2 separate regions of the Homo sapiens genome follow, and region 1 is linked to region 2. Evidence: fine-mapped expression QTL. A gene starts in region 2. The other region holds a variant in brackets. All regions are shown on one strand. Distances are from middle to middle.

Region 1 (12,550 bases), 63 kb before region 2:
CCCAGCTACTAGGGAGGCTGAGGCACGAGACTCACTTGAACCCGGGAGGTGGAAGTTGCAGTGAGCCAAGATCGCGCCACCACACTCCAGGGTGACAGAATGAGACTTCATCTCAAAAAATAAATAGAAATTTAAAAAAAAATTAAAAAAAAAACCACCATTGCTGGTGGGATTATAAAATGGTGCAGCTGCTTTGGAAAATGGCTTCACAGTTCCACCAAAGGTACCATAGTTACCATATGATCTAGCAGTTTCATTCATAGTTACAGTTTACAAGAATTAAAAATCTGTATCTACCAAAAACTTATACATACATGTGCATAGCAGTATTAATAACCAAAAAGAAGAAACAACCAAAATTGTCATTAACTGAACAAAATGTGTATGTGTACAGATTATTATTCAGGAATGAAATGAATAAAGATGAGGACCATAACCTATACTGTATATTTTCTTATGCATCCTAAGCTAGAAACCAGGGTTACCTTTGGAGAGGGAATTGGGAGTCATAGAGGCTGCCTACAATTTTGAACACATACCAATATTTTTATTCAAAAATTAAAAATTAAAATCTTCAAAATGTAACACTGCTGTAAACTCTTACCATCAAACTACATAAGCAAAACTGCAACACGAGAAATCGATAGAAATAAAAATGTAATTGAAGAATAACACAATTTCTTTCAGTCTCTGACAATGCAAGTAGAAAAAGAATGTGTATAGAGAGAAAAAGCTCATAGTGCCTAAGACAGATCGATCATCTGTTCTCCCCAGCACCACTAATGAAGTTCTCCCTTTTCTTCCGGAGTGATACCACCATTCATCCAGCTGGACAGGACAGAGCCCTTCTCCCTCCATCCCCATGACCAGGAAATGCATCACTGACTCTTGTTTGTTTAACCTGCCTGCCATTCCAGGGATCCATCCATTTCTTTCCATCTCCTGTCTCCACCCAGATCCAAGATACCATCATCTCCCTCTTGGATCATTACAGGAGCCTCCTAACTCTCCACTCTGACCAACCTCCTCTTTCCACACCTCCTCACTGCGCTGCACACCACAGCCAGAGGGGATCTTTTCAAAACAATTTTTTTTTTTTTTGAGACAGAGTTTCACTCTTGTCGCCCAGGCTGGAGCACCGTGGTGCAATCTCGGCTCACCGCAACCTCCGCCTCCGGGTTCAAGCGATTCTCCTGCCTCAACCTCCCAAGTAGCTGGGACTACAGGCATGCGCCACCACACCTGGCTAATTTTTTGTATTTTAGTAGAGGCCGGGTTTCACCACGTTGGCCAGGCTGGTCTCAAACTCCTGACCTCAGATGACCCACCGGCCTTGGCCTCCCAAAAGTGCTGGGATTACAGGCATGAGCCACCGCACCTGGCCTCAAAACAAATATTTTCAGACCAGGTGTGGTGGCTCATGCCTGTAATCCCAGTGCTTTGGGAGGCTGAGATGGGAGGATCACTGGAGGCCAGAAGTTTGAGGTTGCAGAGAGCTATGATTGTGCCACTGCATTCTAGCTTGGGTGACAGAGAAAGACTCTGTAAAAACAAACAAACAAAAACATTTGTACACCATCTCTCTGAGTCAAATGCGCCAAAGGCTTCCTTGTCACTTCCAGGACAAGGCAGAAATCTATGTGACCCATAGGACTGTACCCGAGATGGCTGTCCGCCTCTCCAGCTCATCTCACGCCGTGTTCCCGCTCCGTCCTCCAGCCATTCTTCCATTCCTTGAAGACCATGCTCTCTCCCACCACAGGGCATCTGCACAAGCCATTTCCCAGGCCTGGGCTGTCCATCTCTAGGCTCTTTGTCTCATTCACGCCAACTCATCCCTCAGATCTCAGTTCAGCTGTCACCTGGTCAGGGAAGCCTTTTGTGACTCAGCATTCCAGCTCAGGTTCCTCTATTTTAGTCTCTCCTAGAACTCTGCTCCTCTCCTGCGTTGCACGCATCCCATTGAGGCTGCGATGTGATTAGTGTCTGCCACTAGCACCACCAGCACTAGCTTGCCTGCAAGGACTGTGAAAAAAGGAATTGTTTCTGCTCACCCACTGTTTCTCCCAATGGTTTGCACAGTATCTTAGATATAGTAGCTGCTGCAATATGAATGAATGAATCAGAATAAAATTATCAACATTCGTTCAATTTTATTAATCTCTACCATCATACAAAACATAACCTTTTCAGTTCTCATGGACTCTTGATGGAAACGGACCATGTATTCGATTCTCACAAGGCCTCATATTCAGAAAAGTGAAAACAACTGACCACCTTCTCTCACTACCACACAGTGTGACTGGGAAGAATTAAGAAAAGAAACTGCCAGGCGCAGTGGCCCATGCCTATCATCTCAGTATCTGGGAGGCCAAGGAGGGAGGATCTCTTGAGGCTAGGAGTTTGAGACCAGCTTGGGCAACATAGCAAGACCCCGTCTCTACAAAATAAATAAGTGTGTCACGGTGGCGCCACCTGTAGTCTCAGCTACAGAGAGGCTGAGGCAGGAGGATCTCTTGAGCCTAGGAATTGGAGGCTACAGTGAGCAGTGATCACGTCACTACAATCCAGCCTGAATGATAGAGTGAGACCCTGTTGCTTAAAGAAAAAAAAAAAAAAACTGGAATCCAAAATCAACAAGGGTTCAGGCATAGTGGCTTATCCCTATAACCCCAGCACTTTGGGGTTACAGGAGGATCACTTGAGCTCAGGAGTTTGAGATCATCCTGGGCAACATAGTGAGACCTCCATCTCTACTAAAAATTTTAAAAAGGCCAGGCGCAGTGACTCACGCCTGTAATCCCAGCACTTTGGGAGGCTGAGGCAGGTGGATTGTCTGAGGTCAGGGGTTCGAGACCAGCCTGGCCAACATAGTGAAACTCCATCTCTACTAAAAATACAAAAAATTAGCTGGGCATGGTAGCGGGTGCCTGTAATCCCAGCTACTAGGGAGGCTAAGGCAGGAGAATCGCTTGAACCCAGGAGGCAGAGGTTGCAGTGAGCCGATGTTGTGCCATTACACTCCAGCCTGGGGGACAAGAGCAAAACTCCATCTTAAAAAAAAATAAAATTAAAGAAAATTAGCTTAGTGTGGTGGTGTGCACCTGTAGTCCCAGCTATGTGAGAGGCTGAGGCAGAGGATCACTTGAGTCCAGCACTTTGAGGCTGCAGTGAGCTATGATCATGCCACTGCACTCCAGCCTGGGTGACAGAGCAAGACCTCATCTCAAAAAAGAAAAAAAAACAAAAAACAAGGGCTTTGTCTTTTTCTCTGCTGTATCTCCAGCACCTAGAATAAGTGCTCAATATACATTTTTGAACAAACAAATAAGAATAGAAAAATAAAATCGATGATCTGCTCAAACATAGGAGTGTCAAAGTAGGAAAATAGGAGAGAAAAGAAAATTAGAGGTTCGACCAAGAAAGTACAACATCAGACTTCTAGGAATTTAGAAAGCAAACCAAAAAAAAAGAGTGAATCAAGCTGGGTACAGTGGCTCACACCCATAATCCCAGCACTTTGGGAGGCCAAGATGGGAGGATCACTTGAGCCCAGGAGTTTGCGACCAGCCTGGCAACATAGCAATACTCTGTTTCTACTAAAAATAAAAAAAAATTAGCCAGGTCTGGTGGCAAATGCCTGTAATCCCAGCTACTCGGGAGGCTGAGGTGGGAGGATTGCTTGGGCCCAGGAGCCTGAGGCTACAGTGAGCCATAATTGTACCACTGCACTCCAGTGCGGACAACAGAGCAAGACCCTGTCTCAAAAAAAAAAAAAAGTGAATAAAATTATCAAAGAAATAATGTAATAGTTCCAAGAATTAAAGAACATGGAGGAAAAAAACATGGATCTCTAGATGGAAAGACCCACCACGTGCCCAGCTAAATGAATGAAAAATGACCCACATCAAGGTGTTCTGGTGTTCTGGTCAGTAGGTGGCATAAATAGATCCCAGCCCAGCGTGGTGGCTCCATTGCTAAAGATCTGATCAGTGGTGACCTGGGAATGTCCTGGAGGAGGGAATGCTGTGGCAGCTGTGATGATGCAGAATTTGAAGGCTATCCAGGGTGGAGGTGGGACAATGCCAGGGAAAGTGCCGAGGTGGCTGCTCACTGCTCAATCGTCCTGATGCTCTATCTGCAGCAAGTGAGAAACTGAGAACTGTGAACAAGCAGTTCACGGCTAAGTGTGAGCACCAGAGAGCCTTGGTATCGAGGAGTGTAAAAAAAGGCTTTTTTTTTTTTTTTTTTGAGACAGAGTCTTGCTCTGTCGCCCAGGCTGGAGTGCAGCGGCACCATACCATTCCACTGCACCCTCCGCCTCCGCCTTCCGGGTTCAAGCGATTCTCCAGCCTCAGCCTCCCAAGTAGCTGGGATTACAGGCGTGCACCACCACGCCCGGATAATTTTTGTATTTTTAGTAGAGTCAGGGTTTCACCATGTTGGCCAGGCTGGTCTCGAACTCCTGACCTCAGGTAATCTACCCACCTGGGCCTCCCAAAGTGCTGGGATTACAGGTGTGAGTCACCATGCCCGGCCTGAGTGGATAATCTATTGAAAGAACTAACGAAGTTCTTCAACATAACCAGATAAACAGAAATAAAAACGAAATATGTCAGCAATAAACAATTTTTTTTAATAGTGGGTGACTTCTGGTTTGCCCCAAGGTGGTGAACTAGCATATAGGTTGTTGGCTTCCTGCCTTAGCCAAAGCCTGAGTGCTATAGAGATTAAAGGAAAGCATATTGATTCAGGGAACTAAAGATCAGAAGAAAATTCTAGGGAGAGAAGGCGGTTGTGAGCAAATGTAGAGGGGAGCACAGCAGACCTGAGTGAGGCAGAGCTGGGGGCTATGGCGGATGAATCGGGACCCCTTCCTACTTCAGTTATTAACTAGAAGGATTCACATGACCTGATGAGGTTATATCACAGCTAAGGTTGACTAAGCGAAGGATACACCACGGGACCAGAGAGAAAGATACACATAGACAAAGTCCAGGGAGGCCGAGAGCAGGCTGCACGGTGTGTTTCTTTCCAGGTGTGAACCACAGAGATGTGAGATGTCTCTGCCCAGGGAAACACCCAGGTCTCAAAACCTGTTGTTCTAAGAAGATGGTCACATAGGCACTTTCCTGCCACATGACCAGCCATGGTAACCAAAACACAGCACTCCAAAACAGAGGCCAGACGCACATCCTAAGTTTTTTTTTTTTTTTTTTTTTTTTGAGACAGAGTCTGTCTCTGTCCCCCAGGCTGGAGTGCAGTGGCACGATCTTGGCTCACTGCAAGCTCCGCCTCCTGGGTTCACGCCATTCTCCTGCCTCAGCC[T/C]CCCACCCCCGGCCCCGAGTAGCTGGGACTACAGGCGCCCGCCACCACACCCACCTAATTTTTTGTTTTTGTTTTTAGTAGAGACGGGGGTTTCACCGTGTTAGCCAGGATGGTCTCGATCTCCTGATCTTGTGATCCGCCCGCCTCGGCCTCCGAAAGTGCTGGGATTACAGGCGTGAGCCACCGCGCCCGGCCGCACATCCTAAATCTTGATGTTAAACATTCTGACATCTGACAGGCTGCTCATCCTGCCCCAGTGCACCAGGCCTACAGATTAACATTCATCAGTAACTACATGCACCTTCCAAGAGTTTCCTTCTCAGCTTGTCCCAGGTCAGTGCCATAGCTCCAGGCACTCCCAGAGAGCAGCAAAGACTGAGTAAGCCAGGCCTGCTCACAACAGAAACGCAGACTGTGGAAACCCTTGGCCTTTCCTCTTGCCTCTTTTAGAACTCTCAATAGAGCCATCTGGGCCAGATACCGTGTTTTTTTTTTTTTATTAAAAAAAAAAATACTGAGCTGGAAGCATTAATGTCCACCTATTTTAAGTGTACAGCCTTCGTGACTCTTTCCACATGACTATACCTGAACCACCACCACTCGGATCAGAATATAAAACCTTTCCAGCACCCAGCAAGCTTCTCTTGTGCCTCTTGTCAGTGGCCCCCAAGGTAACCACTGTTCTAATTTCAGTCACCACAGATTAGTTTTGCTTGCATTTGAAATTCATGTAATACAGTGAATACATTATGAAGTCTTGACTATAAACTTTTTTGAGACAGAGTCTCGCTCTGTCCCCCAGGCTGGAGTACAGTGGTGCAATCTCGGCTCACTGCAACCTCCGCCTCCCGGGTTCAAGCGATTCTCCTGACTCAGCCTCCTGAGTAGCTGGGATTACAGACATACGCCACCACGCCCAGCTAATTTTTGTTATTTTTAGTAGAGACAGGGTTTCACTCTGTTAGCCAGGATGGTCTTGATCTCCTAACCTCATGACCCGCCTGCCTCGGACTCCCAAAGTGCTGGGATTACAGGCGTGAGCCACCATGTCTGGCCTACCTTTTTTTAAATTTAACTTTGTTTGCTTGTTTTGAGATGGGGGTCTCCTTATGTTTCCCAGGTTGGTCTCCAACTGCTGGAGCATCCTCAAGCAATCCTCCTACCTCAGCCTCCAAGTAGCCAGGGTTATAGGTGCACGCCACTGTGCCCAGCTTTGAGCCTAACCTTTTTTGCTTAATGTTACATTTGTAAGATTCAGCCATGTTAGCAATTTATGGTCAGTAGTTCATTCTTTTTTATAGTTGTATGTATGCTCATTGTTGGAATACAGCATTTCTCCTCAATAATTGTACCAATTTACCCTTCCGCCTGCTCTGAGAGGCAATTCCAGTTGAGTTACATTTCCACTGACTCTGTTAGGAGATGCCTTTTGTGGGGACAAATGTTTAACTCCTTTTCAATTTGTTCTAGTCTTACTGGTCTGTTTTTTGTGTTTGTTTGTTTTTTCTGCCTTCTCTAGAATCAATTCTGTGTATTTGTTTTCCTGGAAGATAAATCATTTATGTAGATTTTAAATTTCATCAGCATGAGTATGATAGTTTTTTTTTTTGTTTGTTTTGTTTTTTGAGACGGAGTCTTGCTCTGTCGCCCAGGCTGGAGTACAGTGGCACTATCTCGGCTCACTGCAACCTCTGCCTCCCTGGTGCAAGCGACTCTCCTGCCTCAGCCTCCTGAGTAGCTGGGACTACAGGTGCATGCCACCATGCCCAGCTAATTTTTGTATTTTTAGTAGAGATGAGGTTTCACCATGTTGGCCAGGCTGGTCTCAATCTCTTGACCTCGTGATCCTCCCACCTCAGCCTCTCAAAGTGCTGGAATTACAGGCGTGAGCCACCGCGCCCGGCTGAGTATGATAGGTTTTGGTATGCCATGTTTTCATTTTGTGTATTAAATATAAAATACACAAAAATCAAATTGTATTAAAATCTCGTACCAAAAACATGAGTCCCCTGACTCGCCCGTCTCACTTCCTCGGACTCTTTTAGTATTTATATGTTTATCTTTTTTTTTTTAAGATGGGGCCTTGCTATGTTGCTAATGCTCACGTGAGCGTGGAAGGGAACGGAGTTTCAGATGAGACTGCAGTCCCTTGCTTTCAGTTTGTGAGACCCTGGACAGAGCATCCAGCTAAGCCACGCCCAGACTCCTGAACCATGAAAACTATGAGATGGGTTTGTTTTTTTGGTTTTTTTTTTTTTTTGGTTTTTTGACAGGGCCTTGCTCTGCTGCCCAGGCTGGAGTGCAGTGGTGTAATCTCAGCTCGCTGTAGCCTCGAACTCCTGGGTTCATGTGATCCTCCTAATTTAACCTCCCAAGTAGCTGGGAGTACAGGCATGCATCACTGAGCCTGGCTAATTTTTTTTTTTTTGTAGAGACAGGGTCTCACTATGTTGCCTAGGCTGGTCTTGCATCCCTGGCCTCAGGTGATCTTCCCTCCTTGGCCTCCTGTGTAGCTAGGACTCTAGATATGCGGCACTGCGTCCAGCTAATTTATTTTTTATTTTTTGTAGAGATGGGCTCTCCCTGTGTTGCCCAGGCTGCTCTTGAACTCCTGGGCTCAAGCCATCCTCCCACCTCGGCCTCCCGAAGAGCTGAGATTACAGGGCTGAGCTGCTGTGCCTGGCCCTTTAAGATGGGTATTTCTTCAAGCCACTAAGCGTGTAGTGATGTGTTGCTAGAGTAGAAAACCAATACCAGTGTAGCGTCGCTTTCTCATCAGCTCCAGCCTGTCCCCAGCTGGGTGACACTGGGCTTCGACCGCAGTCATGGGCCCGGCAGCCAGGAGAGGAGGTGAGGGCCGCTGCAGAGGGGCACCTGTGGCCTTGTTGGGAGCGGCTTCCGCAGACTCTTCCAGTAGCAGAAGCCCTCACCTTCCTATGGAGAGGCAGCCACCCTCTGCACCCTGGAGAGTTTGGGCTGGAGAGCAGCATCAGGGGCATCCGTTCAGATGGCTCCGTTTTCCGGATGCCAGGTTTTCCTTCCCACGCCCCTGCCCTTGGCCTAAGCAATCTGCCGGGGCTGAGTCTTCAGGCTCTGGAGCTCTGCAAATTCCTGTTAGGTCTCTGGCCTGCCTGCACCATGTCTGCCCTTCTGCTACACATAAGAGCCTTTTTTTTTTTTAACCTGATACACAATAATTGTACATATTTATGGGGTACGTGTGATATTTTGATCCATGCATAAAATGTTTAATGATCAAATCAGGGTAACTGGGTATCCATCACCTCAAACATCTATCGCTTCTTTGTGTTGAGAACATACTAAATCTTCTAGTTGTTTTGAAATATACAAAAAATACTGATAACAATAATCACCATATTGTGTGAACACTAGAACGTATTCCTTCTACTAAACTGTATTTTTTAAAATTTTCTTTTCCTAAGATGAGTCTTGCTCTGTTGCCCAGGCTGGAGTGCAGTGGCACAATCTCCACTCACTGCAACCTCCACCTCCCAGGTTCAAGCGATTCTCCTGCCTCAGTCTCCCGAGTAGCTGGGATTACAGGCGCACACCACCATGCCTGGCTAATTTTGTATTTTTAGTAGAGATGGGGTTTTGCCATGTTGGCCAGGCTGTTCTCGAACTCCTGACCTCAGGTGATCCACCCGCCTCCGCCTCCCAAAGTGCTGGGATTACAGGCGTGAGCCACCGCACCTGGCTGAACCCATTTTTTAAAAGGGAAGGCTGGGTGCGGTGCGTTACGCCTGTAATCCCAACACTTTGGGAGGCCAAGGCGGGCCGATCATGAGTTCAGGAGATCGAGACCATCCTGGCTAACACGGTGAAACTCCGTCTCTACTAAAAATACAAAAAATTAGCCGGGTGTGGTGGTGGGTGCCTGTAGTCCCAGCTACTCCGGAGGCTGAGGCAGGAGAATGGCGTGAACCCAGGAGGTGGAGCTTGCAGTGAGCCAAGATCACACCACTGCACTCCAGCCTGGGCTACAGAGCGAGACTCTGTCTCAAAAAAAAATAATAAATAAAGGGAAAACCACACACTGTATGAGTCCTTTTGCAACCAGATATCTGACAAATGATTAGTATCAAGAGTAAACACGTGGGACAATTACAAATCAATTACAACCCAAAGAAGAAACAGACAATAGCAATTCACAGCAGAAACCAGAATGACCAATCACCACGTGAAAAGACGTGCAGTTTCTCAAGAAACCAGGGAGATGCAAGTTAAAATCACAACCATATTGAAGAACGTTTGTAAAATCTGTGGGTGCCAAGGAACGGGGAGAATGCGCGTCATCAACCCTCGCATATGCATAGAGGGTGATCCGACCACTGATCCAACCTCTGGAGGGCCATTTGGCAATATCTGGCGAAGCTGAAGAAATAAACAGCCTTAAGGCCCAGCAAGCCCACTTCGATTTAAATGCTCACAAGTTCTCACATTAGAAAAACACACATGCCAGAATGTCCACTGCATCATGGTTTATAGAGTAAAAAGCAGGAAACTACCTCAATATAGTTTATCCCATGGGACACCATGCAGCCATCCACATAAATGAACTAGAACTTCACGTATCAACATGGAAAAACCAAATTGCTAATATTCAATCTTCATAAAAAGTAACTTAGTGCCGTGAAGCACATCTCAACAGATTTCAAAAAATTCAAATAGTGCAGAAAATGTGCTGAGACCACAATGCAATTAAGGTAAAAACCAGCAACAGTAGGTATGGAGTTTCCTGCTGGGGTGATGAGAATGTTCTGGAACTAGATGGTGGCAATGGTTGCATAACATGATGAATGTCCTAATGCCACTGAGTGTACACTTGAAAATGGTTAAAACTGTAAACTCCGTCACAGTTTTTAAAAATCATTAACAAAAAATACCTCAGAAAACCCCATATTAATAAAATAATACTCTTTGGCCAGGCATGGTGACTCACACCTGTAATCCCAGAACTCTGGGAGGCCAAGGCGGGCAGATCACTTGAGCCCAAGAGTTTGAGACTAGCCTGGGCTGGTCACATGTTTAGTAGAGATGGTGAAACCCCATCTCTACTAAAAATACAAAAAATAGCCAGGTGTGGTGGCGCCTGTAGTCCCATCCACTTGGGAGGCTGAGGTAAGAGGCCCACCTGAGCCTGGGAGGTCAAGGCTGTGGTGAGCTGCGATTATACCACTACACTCCAGCCCAAGCGAGAAGAGACCCTGTCTCAAAACATAATAATACTCTCCTAAATAACTGATAAATCAAAATAGAAAGCACAATGGGCCTCAGAAAACTGAGTAATAAGGAAAATATGACACTAAAATGTATGAGATGAAGCAAAAGCCACACTTAGAAATGTATGAATTCAGGCCAGGCATGGTGGCCCACGCCTGTAATCCCAGAACTTTGGGAGGCCGAGGCGGGCGGATCACCTGAGGTCAGGAGTTCAAGACCAGCCTGGCCAACATGATGAAAGCCCGTCTCTACTAAAAATACAAAAATTAGCCAGGCGTGGTGGCGCATGCCTGTAACCCCAGCTACTCGGGAGGCTGAGGCAGGAGAATCGCTTTATCGCTTGAAACCGGGATGTGGAGGCTGCGGTGAGCCGAGATTGCGCCACTGTACTCCAGCCTGGCAACAGAGCGAGACTCCATCTCCAAAAAAAAAAAAAAAAAGAACCAAAGCATGGAGAACTTGTCCCAGAGGGCTAGAGGGAAGGAAACAGGTGGCCTCTCAGCTACATGCAATGCAGGCCCCTGGACCTTGAGAAGAGCTGACTTCGCAGACACCGTGCCAGCTGGCACAATCCGAGTGGAGTGTGCAGATGTGAAAGTTGACCAGGGTGGGAAACGGTCCTGTTGTTCTGTAAGTGAACGTCCTTGTCCTTAGGAAATCTACACTGAGGAAACTGTATCCAGAGGGGCATGGGCTCTAGGACAGTTCGGGCTCCAGTGGCCCGGGGGCAGAGTCCACATTCAGTTCTAAGTTAGGAGGAGCTTCCACTAACGGGCAGCACCCCGTCAAAGCCAAGGGTTTGTGCCGACTCTCCCTCACCGAAGGACAGACCCCGGACCCACGACGGCACCTCAAAGCCCCCGAGTGCACAGACTGGCTCTTGGGTCGGAGCCTGGGTTGCTTCATCTGAAATGGAGGACCCCAGGCCTCCGAGGCTGCACTTCCTGGAAAGGCTCTTCGTGGCCACCTGAACGAGCCCTGGGCAGGTCTGAGAAGCAGAAACCCCTCCAGGGCTGCCACTCGGCCTGTGCTGACTCCAGCCCTCTGCCCTGCTGGGAGCGGTGTGGCTCAAGTCGGCTACCTTTGACCCTCCAGGGCCCAGACCCTTCTCAGCGGGTAGGGCAGGGGAGCTGAGGGGCCTGAACTCCAGCCAAGACAGCCAGGTCCCCAGCCTGGGATGAATGCTGTTTGGGTTCCTCTCCCCCATCACCTGGAGGAAGGGCCCAAAGACAACCTCAACCCCACGCCGCATCTGCGTCAGGAGCAGCGCTGCCTCGCCGGGCGGGGGCACAGCGCCTCCAAACACCCCCTCCCCACTGTCCCCGGGCTCATGGGGACAGGGAATGACAGGCCTTCATCTGCCCCCAGGTGGAAGGGCTCAAATGCGCTGCTTCTGGAAGCATCCTGGGTCCCCCTCTGCTCTGCTACCTTTGGCTTGCACCTGAGCCCAGGGCAGGGACAGGAGCAGATCAGGAGACCCCGAGAGAGTGTGAGCCAGGAGCCAAGACCCTGCGGCACTTACCTGGAGCCAGGAGGAAAGCCCAGGGACCCAAACTTCTGCAGGCGGCACTTACCTGGAGCCAGGAGGAAAGCCCAGGGACCCAAACTTCTGCAGACTGCGCAGGACGCCACTGACCTCGGGAGCCCAGGAGGACGCGCTTCCCAGAAGCCACAGGTGTGCCTCGTTAGCAGGGAACACACTACCCGTGGGCTCTGCGCACACCCTGCCTGTGGGGTAAATCAGGACCTAAATTCGCTCAAAGAAGCGCACTCCTATTCCCCGGGGCCCTGGACCAGGCCCAGGTCAGGGCGGGGTCAAGGGCAGAGCTGCCCTGCAGAGCAGCAGCTCCAGGCTGGATCCTTCGGCTGCGGGGCACCAGCACCTGGCACAGAAATCCCACTTGGGAGGCCGAGGTGGGAGGATCACTTGAGCCCAGGAGTTCAAGACCAGCCTGGGCAACAAAGCAAGACCCCATCT
Region 2 (12,457 bases):
CCAACCAACTTTTTTCCCCTCTGGAGCTATGTTCTGCCCTATTTTTAATTCCATGTAAAAGGTCATCAAGGAAAAAAAAAGTGACAGAGACACTTCAAGCTACTCTGGACAGGAGAGTTTACAGTCTTATCAGAAATTTCTAAAGCATGAGAGATTTTTTGAAAAGGAAAACAAGGCTCAGAGACGTAAAGCAAGTTTCTCGAGGACCTGCGACTTTAGCAGGTATCTTTCTCTGAAGAGGAAATAGCCTTCCCTAAACTCAAGCAAAATTCTGTGCCCTCAGGTCAAATAACCAGGTCTTTTCCTAGTCAGAGTGAAGAGGAACTCAAAATGACCAAGTTACAAATCTGGAACATGGTCAGGCGTGATGGTTCATGCCTGTAATCCCAGCAGTTTGGGAGGCCAAGGTGGGAAGATCACTTGAGGACAGAAGTTCAAGACCAGCCTGGGCAACATAGTGAGACCCCTGTGTCTACAATAAAAAAAAAATTAAAAATTTTCAATAAATAAATAAAAACCCTGGAATGTGCCTCATACCAAAACCCCAAGGTGAACGCTTCTAAACCACTTTCTGTAGTGGTGCTCCCATCTGTGGAAGCACACAGGCTGAAAAAGCCTTTCCCAGGCTGTAAGCACTAGCTATCCTCAAGGCAGAAATGAAATTCAATAAATATTCTGAACTGCTTTTGAAAGCATAAACCACTAGGTGCCCTGGGCCACTCACAATTACAAGAATGTTGAACTACAAAGAAACTACACAGAAACAGCAAGTTCAAAAGAAGGCCAAACCCTTATCTGGACTAACTTGGTAACAAATACCTGAATTCATTCAACATAAAATCAACTTTTCTCAGCATGCTGGAAACAATATCACAGGCAGGCGGGAAAAGAAATAAGGCATACAGTTCCTACTGCAATCAGTGTAAATAGCTGCACGAGGCAAGGGTCTTCAAATACCTGGCACACCCTTATCCAAACAGGCCCAGAAGAAAGGCAGTGTGAACAGCTGGACTTCCCTTGGTAGGACTGACTCCTTAGTAGAGAGCTGCCTCCTGAGAGTGCAAGCTTATGCGCATCTCAGCCCGACCTAAAGCCAGCAAAATGCCTTTCTCAGGAACCTGGTAAGCGCAATGTTGCAACAAGCTGGTCCAAACTGCAGCTGACAAGCGCCACCTCCCACTCCCCATCCATGCCTTAATACTGCTCCAATTCTTACCCAGATTGGTAGAATGGAGAGGGGAACCTTAGCAGGGAACCTTCATTTATACAATGCCCCAAGGGCCAGTGTCCGAAATAGGACTCCAGTACACACAAGCTTTGGTAGGTCTCATGTAATTTTACCTGCTACAATAAACTCCTTCCAAGGAACTGCAACCATGAGCCAATAACCCAAGGACACAGATCTTGGCTGACTGCTGACCAAGCCAAAGAAACACACACACACACACACACACACACACACCACCTGCATCAGCAAATTAAAACCAGAATTTCTGAATAAGGGCAGTATCTGGGAACTAAACCTGTGTGGTCTTACTCGGCTTTATTCTCTGCACAACAGACTGAATAGGACGATGTAACCAATGTAAGGCCTGGTATCTGCTAAGTGAAAGAAACCATCCGCTCAGCACCCTCACCACCGCTATCTCAAGAGGCAAAGTCCACAAACTGTCTAGTTTCCTCAAGGGCTCTTTCCTCCCTGCCCACACTCGTGAAGAAAGAGGAAGGGTCCAGGATAGAGATAGTAATGACCTCCTGCTATAAAGTCTGGCTTTGGCTGCTGTTACCGCTGCTAAAGACTGGAGCCCTGAGTCAGCTGAACCCAGGCTACTGTGATCTACATGCCAGGGCTCAACAAACTCCAAGACAAACATAGAACTTCACAAAACAGCCCTGTGTCCCAAGACCCTCACATGTGTGAAAGGCAATAAACTCCTTAATATAACAAACTCCAGGACACTGCAATCGACTTGGGAAGAACTAACTATTTTAGTAAAAGCAAGAGCCAAATCTGGGCATCGCAGAAAAAGAATGAGAGAAAGTGAAGAGTGAGTCTGTCTCCTGGTTGTCTGGAGGTGGCATACTGCCAATTTGGTAGCCTCTGAACCCAGCATACAGTATCAATCTCCTAGCAAAGAACTTCCTTCTGAAACCTGTTTTCCAATCCCTCCAACAGAAGAAACAAAGATTATAAAGCTGATCTTCCAAAACGGTGGTCTCGGGGCAACCTACATCACAAGCCCCTGGTGCAGAAACCTGGATCCCAGCAAAAAAGCTCAATCTACTATAATCAATTTCGAGTGGGGACTAGGAATCTGCATTTTTAACCAGCTGCCCTGGCAATTCTGACACACACTAACTTTGGGAAGGGAGCAGCTCCGTTAAAAACCACTGTTGCCCAGCAAGTTAAGTCACAATCATTTTCCCCCTAAGCTGGAATTAGAACTCTCAGGATCACCTAGGGGAGGTTGTAAGCATTCTCTGATAGACCATTCGGATTCTTACACTGGTTGACCCAGTTCACACACAGCCACCAGCCTCACGTGCAGGATGGCTTCGATAGAACCACCCTCTGGGGGCGGCCTGCCGATTCTACTTTTAAGCACACATATTCTTCGCTCGAAAAGAGGGCGGGGGAGGAGGCTACAATCAAACTTTCCTGGCCCATTCTCTTCGAAGATTCCTTCCTATTCTGGCTAAGAATCAAGCCCCGCTCCTGCAGAAGGGGCAAGGAAAGCGGCCGATTCCTGGGTCGACGAGAATCTCCCAAGAACTGTCTCGACAGGAGAAGCAGGGGCACCCATGACCTACAACCCGCGAGGCCTGGAGGTAGCAAAAGGCCGCCTTCGTCATTTCTCTCCCAGCTTGGATGGGAGTGAGGGGTTGAGAAAATGCAGGATGAGAAATCCAAATATAACTAACTTCTGGCCAACTCTCTGCCTGTATGACTCTAGGTACCTTGGAGCCAGTGCCAGGCCCTGAGCTCAGAGCGGGCCCCCGAAGAAGCTGCAGAGAGAAACTTCGCTCCAGAGACGCGGCCCCAGGGTCGAAAGGGGCTCGGGGCCCGCAGCCCCCGGCCGGCTGCGCCCAGCACAGCAGGCCCTGGATCCCGCGGCTCGGCAGGGGGACTCTCACCTCGGCCCACCCGGCCTTCCAAAGGGTCCTTGCGGAAGTGGATCCCGTGCACGTCCACATGCGCCTCTCCACCCGCGTTGACCGCCCAAATGACGCTCTCGGGCAGCCCGGCCCCCGCCGCGCCGGCCACGCCGGCCACGCCGAGCCCGGGTCCCCGGATCGCCGGCGGCAGCAGCAGCAGCAGCAGTCGCAGGAGCGCCACAGCGGTTCCCTCAACCGCCCAGGCTCCCAGCATGGCGGCCACCACCACGGGGGCAGCCCCCGCCGACCCTCGTCCTCGGCCGGCTGCCAGGCCACCCCGGACTCAGAAAAACAGCGCCACGGGCCGCTCCGCCTGAGCCGCCGGGGACATGTCGCTCTCAGGCCTCCTTCTTCTCAGCCACGGGTACCGCCTCCCACCTCAGGAACAACCTACCCCGCCGCCCTGCCCCCGGCCACGACGCTGCAGCCAATCAGCGCCCGGCCCTCATTAATTACCCACCACCCCGCCGGGAGGCGCCCGCTCATTGGCTGTCAGGCGCGGGAAAGGGCGTGGCTTCTCCCAGGCGCCGGCCCAGCAGTCGGGCACCAGATGGAGCGCGCGCAGAGGGAGTGAGTTCGGTTGAAGCGGCGGTTCGATGCGGAAGTGGCGGGTGCAGCGCCCAGGCGGCCCCGGAATCCCACAGCTGAATGGGAAAGGTGGCCTGGGGGGGGAAGGTTTAGGGTAGGGCGCACTGACATGTCGCCAGCACTTCCGGTGCTCTAGCTCCTGAGACCAAATAGGCTCTGGAGGGGGCGTGGCCGACTTTCCCGCCCCCTCTTCTTTTCTCAGGGAGCAGCATGAGCATAAATTCTAGTAGGAGAAGCAATGGACACTCTCCAGACCTAAGAGACGCAGTCCTTTTCCCCGCGTGAGGGAGAGGACCCATGCTTTCCCAGAGAGGCCGCGGACACAGGTCTCCAGGGAACGAATCCCATGAGAATAAGGCCCCGCCCCCTCCCCTTAGCGGGCTCGGGGCGGGTGGTAGCGTCCAGACGGCCGTCCAATGAGAAGGCTCCAACGCAGCGGAAACGCGTGGCTTTGAGAGCGAGTGGGTGCCAGGCTGCTCGCGTCTCCATGGCGACGGCCTCTGGCCGGCCTCCGCTGCGTAGGGGCGGGACCGAGGCACCCTAGGCGCTGGCGGGAGTCGCCGCCGGCGGTGCCCAGAGTGGATACCGGGGTTGTCCCGCACGGGCACGGCCCGAACTCCCTCCCTGCTCCTTCACAGTTCACCTGGCGCTCTCCCACACTGGCGATCCCTGCGCTTCGGTCGCTGTTCAAACTCCCATTTTTCCGATGGGGAAACTGAGGCATAGAAAGGGACTGAATTTTGCCAAAGGGTCGCACCGCAAGTGTAGGGCAGAGTCAAGGCAAAAACAAAAAAAACAAAAAAACGCTTATGCATTTTCCATAAATACTGGTCGATTTAGAAATTCTCCCTAAAAGGAAAAAAATGTATCAAGTCCCTGCTACCAGGGTTGTCAGATTTGGCAGATAAAATAGGAGAAGCCCAGTTATATTTGAATTTCAGATAAGCAAATGGGACCCACTTATACTAAAAAAAAAAATGCATTGTTTATTAAAATTTAAACAACTGGACTTCTTGTATTTTATCTACCAATCCTACCTACTACTTAGGCAATGAGCTTTGTGCTACATGAACAAAAAACACACCTGGGGTCCCGCATGAGAATCATAGACTTTGCACAACCCATAATGAAATTAATTGTTTAGTTAGAACAGTGGTAAGTGCTATACGGGAACAAAACAGGGTGCCAAAATAGAGACTATCAGTGGTGGATCTAAATGCACCCAAATTCCTTCCCAGGCCCCAAATTCAGACCCCATGGGGGTAACTTTTGGAAGTGTTCCCTCCCGGTCTCACTTTCCCCCCTATTTTGCAAGCATCTGGCCTTACTTCCTCCCATAGACATGTTTCCTGTCCAAGGTGTTTCTTTTTTTTTTTTTTTCTGTCTTTTTTGGAGACAGAGTCTTGCTCTGTCGCCAGGCTGGAGTGCAGTGGTGCAATCTCGGCTCATGGCAACCTCCACCTCCCGGGTTTAGGCGATTCTGCTGCCTCAGCCTCCTGAGTAGCTGGGACTACAGGCGCGCGCCACCACACCCAACTAGTTTTTTTTATTTTTATTAGAGACCGAGTTTCACCATGTTGGCCAGGATGATCTCGATCTCCTGACCTCGGGGTCCGCGGCCTCCCAAAGTGCTGGGATTACAGGTGTGAGCCACCACACCTGGCCTCTTGGGGTTTCTAATTCTACTATTCTCTCTCTCAAACTGTCATCTTTTAAGGATCTTGACAACTCAGAGGCTTCAGTTACCCTCAAAGGAGGGGTGTGGTGCAAATGGGGAACAGAAACACAAGTAGTGGTGATGGGGCTTCCTCCCTCCAGGCAGTTGGCCTGCAGAGCCCACGTACCACTCAGGTATTGCACTGCCACCAGGCGCTCATGTTTATTTTATCCTCAAGGCAGTCTAGTCCAGGAGAAACAATCACAAAAACGGATTAAATTTTGGGGGAGGCCTCTAAAGGCTTTCTCTCAGTCCTTCGTGTCTTTGGTCACCCCAGAGGGTGAAGAAGATACCCGGCTGGCTCCTGTTATTGAGCCCTTCAGATACCATTCGTGGTTGGGCCATCTGTGTACCAAGGAGCTTGGCTCCCTTTCTGAGATCCAGCTGCTCATGAATTAGGCTGTCTTTTCAGTAAAACGTAAAGTCTGAGACCCTGGAGGCAGGGTATGGGATCCGAGCGTGGGATCTAAGACAGGCTGCCTGCATCCCATGCCTAGTCCCATTTACCCACTGTGTGGCCTTGGGCAAGTGATGTACTTCGCTGAGTTTCAGTTTCCTCAGTTGTGAAATAGAGATACAGTCATGAGTCACTTAATGACAGGGATGCGTTCTGAAAAATGCATCATTAAGCGATTTTGTCATTGTGCAGAGATCACAGAGTGTACTTACACAAACCTAGATGGGGATAGCCTGCTATACACCTAGGCTATATGGTATAGCTGATAGCTCCTACACTACAAACCTCTACAGCATGTTACCTTACTGAATACTGTAGACAGTTGAACACAATGGTAAGTATTTGCGTATCTAAACACAGATACAGTATAAACACAGTATTGGCCAGCCTAGTGGCCCATGCCTGTAATTCCAGCACTTTGGGAGGCTGAGGTGGGTGGATCACTTGAGGCCAGGAGTTCGAGACCAGCCTGACCAACATGGAAAAACCCTGTCTCTACTAAAAATACAAAAATTAGCTGGGCATGGTGGGGCGCACCTGTAATCCCAGCTATTCGGAAGGCCGAGGCAGGAGACTCGCTTGAACCCGGGAGGCAGAGGTTACAGTGAGCCGAGATCGCACCACTGCACTCTAGCCTGGGTGACAGAGTGAGATCCAGTCTCAAAAAAAAAATATATATATATATACACACACACACACACACACACACACACACAAAATTTTATTTATTTATTTATTTATTTATTTATTGTGGAGACAGATTCTCACTATGTTGTCCAGGCTGGCCTCTAACTTGTGGCCTCAAGCGGTCCTCCCGCCTTGACCTTCCAAAGTCCTGGGATTACAGGCCTAAGCCCCTGCACCCAGCCAATATTATAATCTCACGGGACCATCATCGTGTATGTGGTTCGTCATTGGCTGAAATGTTATGTAGCACATGACTGGAATACTTTATTTTACTTATTTATTTTTTGAGACAGAGTCTCACTCTTGCCCAGGCTGGAGTGCAGTGGCATGATCTCGGCTCACTTCAGCCTCTGCCTCCTGGGTTCAAGCAATTCTCGTGTCTCAGCCTCCCAGATAGCTGGGATTATAGGCATGCACCACCATGCCTGGCTAATTTTTGTATTTTTAGTAGAGACAGGGTTTCTCCATGTTGGCCAGCCTGGTCTTGAACTTCTGGCCTCAAGTGATCCACCTGCCTTGGCCTCCCAAAGTGCTGGGATTACAGGTGTGAACAACCGCACCTGGCCTGGAATAGTTTCTATTTCAGAGGGCAGACGTGAGGATTAAAGAAGGTAATAAAACCGCATGAAGAAGAGGAGGAGAAGGTGGTAATGCATATAATAAAGTCATTAGAATTGATAAAGAGCTGAAACAATTGTTTAGATACTCCGAGACCAACCACCATAGCCACATAACCAAAATTTTAGCACCTGATTTTCCAAAATGCTAACTCTAAACATAAACAAAGCACAAGAATAAGTTTTCTTCCCTTATTAGCATGATTCCACAGAATTAAACCAATCAGCCATAGACAAACCAGCTTAAGCAGCTCTATTTGCCTTTGAAAAAATATATATCAGCCAATCATGTAAAGGGTCAAAATACTTCCTCTTGTGCTACAACTGCTGTCAATTCAGACTTCTTGCCAATCTTGTAATCTCCCGATTCACAGACTCTTCCTTTGTATGCACAATCAACTCCTGAAATTTTAACTTGATCTGATTTTATTTTTGACAGATTCATGCCTGGCACAAGCCAAGGCACTCAACCGATTGCTACTCTGAAATGAAAGTCTCGGCCGGGCACGGTGGCTCACGCCTGTAATCCTAGCACTTTGGAAGGCCGAGGTGAGTGGATCACCTGAGGTTGGGAGTTCAAGACCAGCCTGACCAACATGGAGAAACCGCATCTCTACTAAAAATACAAAATTAGCCGGGCATGGTGGTGCATGCCTGTAATCCCAGCTATTCAGGAAGGTGAGGCAGGAGAATCGCTTGAACCCGGGAGGCGTAAGTTGTGGTGAGCCGATATTGTGCCATTGCACTCCAGCCTGGGCAACAAAAGCGAAACTCCGTCTCAAAAAAAAAAAAAAAAAAGAAAGAAAGAAAGTCTCTTGAGTTCTTGCCTTCTGAACTTGTACCCCCCACCTTGTACTGTAAGAAGCTGCTAGATCTATGTTTTTTTTTTGGTTTTTTTTTTTTTTTATGAGACAGGGTCTCGTTCCATTGCCCAGTCTGGAGTACAGTGGCACAATCATGGGTCACTGCAGCCTCGATCTCCCAGGCTCAAGGGATACTCCTACCTCAGCCACCCAAGTAACTGGAACTAGAGGCATGTGCCACCATGCCCCACTAATTTTTTTATTTTTTTGTAGAGATGGGGTCTTTTGCGATGTTGCCCAAGCTGGTTCGAACTCCTGGGCTCAAGCAGTCCTCACACCTCGGCCTCCCAGAGTGCTGGTATTACAGGCATAAGCCACTGCACCTGGTCCCAGATATACGCTTTTAGGAACTCTTGATAAAATTGTTTGTAGCCACAAATCTGTACGAGTCTACAGCACCTCAATTCTTGGCTGGGCGTGGTGGCTCACGCCTGTAATCCCAGCACTTTGGGGGGCCAAGGCAGGTGAATCACCTGAGGTCAGGAGTTCAAGACTAGCCTGGCCAACATGTCGAGACCCCACCTCTACAAAAATATAAAAATTAGCCAGGCGTGGTAGCATGCGTTTGTAGTCCCAGCTACTTGGGAGGCTGAGGCAGGAGAATCGCTTGAACCCAGGAGGTGGAGGTTGCAGTGAGCCAAGATCATGCCACTGCACTCCAGCCTGGGTGACAGAGTGAGACTCTGTCTCAAAAATATATATATATATATATTGACTCCTCAGAAGAATTCAACTAAGGGGCAAAAGGCAGAGAGAGAGAGACAGAGACAAGTTTTAGAGCAGGAATAAAAGGAAGTAAAAGGCCAGGCACAGTGGCTCATGCCTGTAATCCCAGCACTTTGGGAGGCCAAAGCAGACGGATCACCCTGAGGTCAGGAGTTTGAGACCAGCCTGGCCAACATGGAGAAACCCCGTCTCTACTAAAAATACAAAAATTAGCCAGGCGTGGTGGTGTGCGCCTGTAGTCTCAGCTACTAGGGAGGCTGAGGCAGGAGAAGCGCTTGAACTCGGGAGGCAGAGGTTGCAGTGAGCTGAGATTGCACCACTGTACTCCAGCCTGGGTGACAGAGCAAGAACCCGTCTCAAAAAAAAAAAAAATTGCGCACCTGAGGTGGTATCAGGAGTAGGACCCCCATCTTGTACTATAGAAGGCTACTAGATCTATGCCTTTTTTTTTTTTTTGAGGCAAAGTCTGTCTCTGTTGCCCAGGCTGGAGTGCAGTGGCGCAAACTCGGCTCACTGCAACCTCTCCCTCCTGGGTTCAAGCAATTCTCCAGCCTCAGCATCCCGAGTAGCTGGGACTACAGGCATGCTACCACATCCAGCTAATTTTGGAATTTTTAGTAGAGACAGGGTTTCACCATGTTGGCCAGGCTGGTCTCAAACTCTTGCCCTCAGGTGATCCACCCACTTTGGCCTCCCAAAGTGCTGGGATTACAGGCGTGAGCCACTGCGCCCGGTCCTTTTTTTTTTTTTTTTTTTTTTTTTTTTGAGACAGGGTTTCCTTCTGTTGCCCAGGCTGGAGTACAGTGACATAATCCTGGGTCACTGCAGCCTCTACCTCCCGGGCTCAAGGGATCCTCCCACCTTAGTCTCCCTAGTAACTGGGACTAGATGCATGTGCCACCATGCCCCACTGAATTTTTTTTTCTTTTTTTTTGTAGAGATGAGGTCTTTTGCTATATTGCCCAGGCTGGTCTCAAACTCCTGGGTTCTCCTCCTGCCTCGGCCTCCCAAAGTGCTGGGATTACAGGCATGAGCCTTGATAGGGTTGGGGGCAGAAGACAAAAAGGCCAGAGTCAGGCTAGAGGGCCTGAACCCAGGGCAGGATTATATCCAAAAGCACTGACCCAGAGGGGTCCCCAGATAACCCCAGGTTTGCTCTCAGGATAGACCATGCAGAAGGCATGGAGTCTGAGCCCTGGGAAAGCTGAGAAGAGTGTCAGTCCCCAGGTGGCCCTGGACCCAGGCCATTTCTCTGTAGACAATGAGGAATTTGGGCTCCAGTCTCCCATTTCCCCTCCCTGCTGTGGAAGGTCATCCCCATCTGAGAGCCCAGAAACACTTGGGGCGGCTGCATTCCCACCTCTTTCAGCTGGGGCTGGTTTGCTGCAAACATTTCTGCAAATCCTCCAGCACTCTCTCAGGATGGAGGACTTGCCCTCGTTAGAGTAACAGGAACCAAGATTTGGGGGTCAGACAGAGCTGGGTTCAGTTCCTTCCTCAGCGGCTTCCCAGTCACATCACTTCCTTTCTTGCTGAGTCTCCTTTCTCCTGAAACGCACACCACATTGATGTAAGGACTAAATAGGTAGTTCTTAAATGGGCAGCAGTTATTTTTCTCTGTGGAAGAAAGATACACTTTTTGTAGAAAATGCAGACGACATGGAAGAGAATTTTTCTTTTTCCCATACAGAGTCTTACTCTGTTGCCCAGGTTGGAGTGCAGTGGTGTGATTTCTGCTCACTGCAGCCTCTGCCTCCCGGATTCAAGCAATTCTCCTGCCCCAGCCTCCTTGAGTAGCTGGGATTACAGGTATGTGCCACCACATCTGGCTAATTTTTGTACTTCTAGTAGAGATGGGGTTTCACCATGTTGGCCAGGCTGGTCTCAAACTCCAGACCTCAAGTGATCCGCCCACCTCAGTCTCCCCAAGTATTGGGATTTCAGGCATGAGCTACCATGCTGGCCAGAAGAGACTTTTTTAAAGATAAAATTTGCCATAATTTCTTTTTTCTTTTTTTTTCTTGCTTTGAGACAGAGTTTCGCTCTTGTTGCCCAGGCTGGAGTGCAATGGCGCGATCTCAACTCACCGCAACCTCCACCTCCCGGGTTCAAGTGATTCTCCTGCCTCAGCGTCCCTAGTAGCTGGGATTACAGGCATGCGCCACCATGCCCAGGTAATTTTGTATTTTTAGTAGAGACGGGGTTTCTCCATGTTGGTCTTACTGGTCTTGAACTCCCGACCTCAGGTGATCCGCCCACCTCGGCTTCTCAAAGTGCTGAGATTACAGGCATGAGCCACTGCGCCCAGCCCAAAATTCACCAAAATTTCATCCAAAACTGATATAAGGCATATAAACCCAGGTCCTGACAGAGCAGCTTCTCAATAATCATTGGTTCCTACTTATCCGATGCTCTTAATGACCTCAAAACGTTGGAAAACTAGGTCATGTTCCCTTTTTTGCAGATGAGAAGCTAAAGCTCAGAGAGTTGAGGGATTTGTCCAAAGTCACACAATGAACAGCCAGAATCCAATGTTTTGGCATCTAATATACTTCTTTTCCTTTGAGCCTGGCTATGTAGCAAACATAGTTTGGTGCAAATCACAGCTCTGCCATTAGTCACTGTGTGACTTTGGGTAAATGAATTCACCTCTTTGATCCTTAGTTTCTTCATTTGTGGGATGGAGAGAATAATTGTGCCCACCTTGTAGGACTGTTAAAAATAAGAAAACATATTTTAAATAAACAAAAAATTAAAGTTGGTTTTTTTTTTTTTTTTTTTTGGAGATGGTGTCTCACTCTGTCACCCAGGCTGGAGTGCAGTGGCGTGATCTCATCTCACTGCAACCTTGGCCTCCTCAGTTCAAGTGATTCTCCTGTCTCAGCCTCCCAAGTAGCTGCGACTACAGGCATACACCACCACGCCTGGCTACTTTTTGTATTTTAGTAGAGACAAGGTTTCACCATGTTGGCCAGGCTGGTCTCGAACCCCTGACCTCAAGTGATCTGCCCCCCCCTCAGCATCCCAAAGTACTGGGATTACAGGCATGTGTCACCACGCCCGTCCAGGATGTGGTTTTTAAAATTAGCATTGTGGGACCATTGAGCACGTAGCTAAGTGATCAGTAAATCATAGTCGTGGGTGTTTGGGGCATAGAGACCTGGATTTAAAGCCTAGCTCCACTTCTTAGAGCTGTGTGGCCCTTGGAAAGTCGTTTCTCCTCTCTGGGCCTCAGTTGTCTCACTTGTACAATGGATATAATTAGAAGACCTACCATGTGGGGCTGTTAGGAGCCATTCACAGCGTGCCTGGCCCATAGAAGTCCTCAGTGCACAGAAGCTATTAATTATGTATGAAGAAATAATTATAACAGGTACCGCTGGCAATCTGATAAATAGAAAAGACCTTGATGAAGTGCTGAGGCTAAGGAGTGGGAAATACCCTTCTCCCCAAGGGAGAAAAAACCAAAGGGAACCAGAGTTCAAAAGGGGAAGGTGCAGCAGCTGTGTTTGAGCCCCGAGAGGCAATTTCACCTTGACCCATAAAACTGAAAAGGGTTGTGTCTTCCTGTCCAGATAAGGATCAGAAGAACAAAGCGTACTATTAATTAAGTCCTGCCTATTTTTAAGTTTATGGGATATTTTTC

The links. PIP is the estimated chance that this variant, and not a neighbour inherited with it, causes the effect.
Region 1: its variant is the best candidate, but not a certain one, in a credible set for the expression of MLEC in neutrophils (BLUEPRINT, PIP 0.90).

What each region holds. Positions count from the first base shown.
Region 1 is chr12:120,740,909-120,753,458 of GRCh38, reverse strand. No RefSeq gene overlaps it. Among named protein-coding and RNA genes, the nearest start is that of ACADS, 21 kb to the right of the region's middle. RefSeq lists a silencer at 5,539-5,754. The variant T/C (reference allele first, on the strand shown) is at 5,329.
Region 2 is chr12:120,678,210-120,690,666 of GRCh38, reverse strand. It overlaps MLEC (malectin), which reads right to left and starts at 3,518. Exons shown (of 5, transcript NM_014730.4): 1 at 3,136-3,518. The coding sequence starts at 3,370. It overlaps LOC105370029 (a long non-coding RNA gene), which reads left to right and starts at 3,518. Exons shown (of 3, transcript XR_945449.3): 1 at 3,518-3,813; 2 at 7,662-7,771. It also overlaps a transcript of CABP1 not described here. RefSeq lists silencers at 3,160-3,459, 4,300-4,399, 5,514-5,603 and enhancers at 3,214-3,715, 3,810-3,939, 4,030-4,139, 10,323-10,432.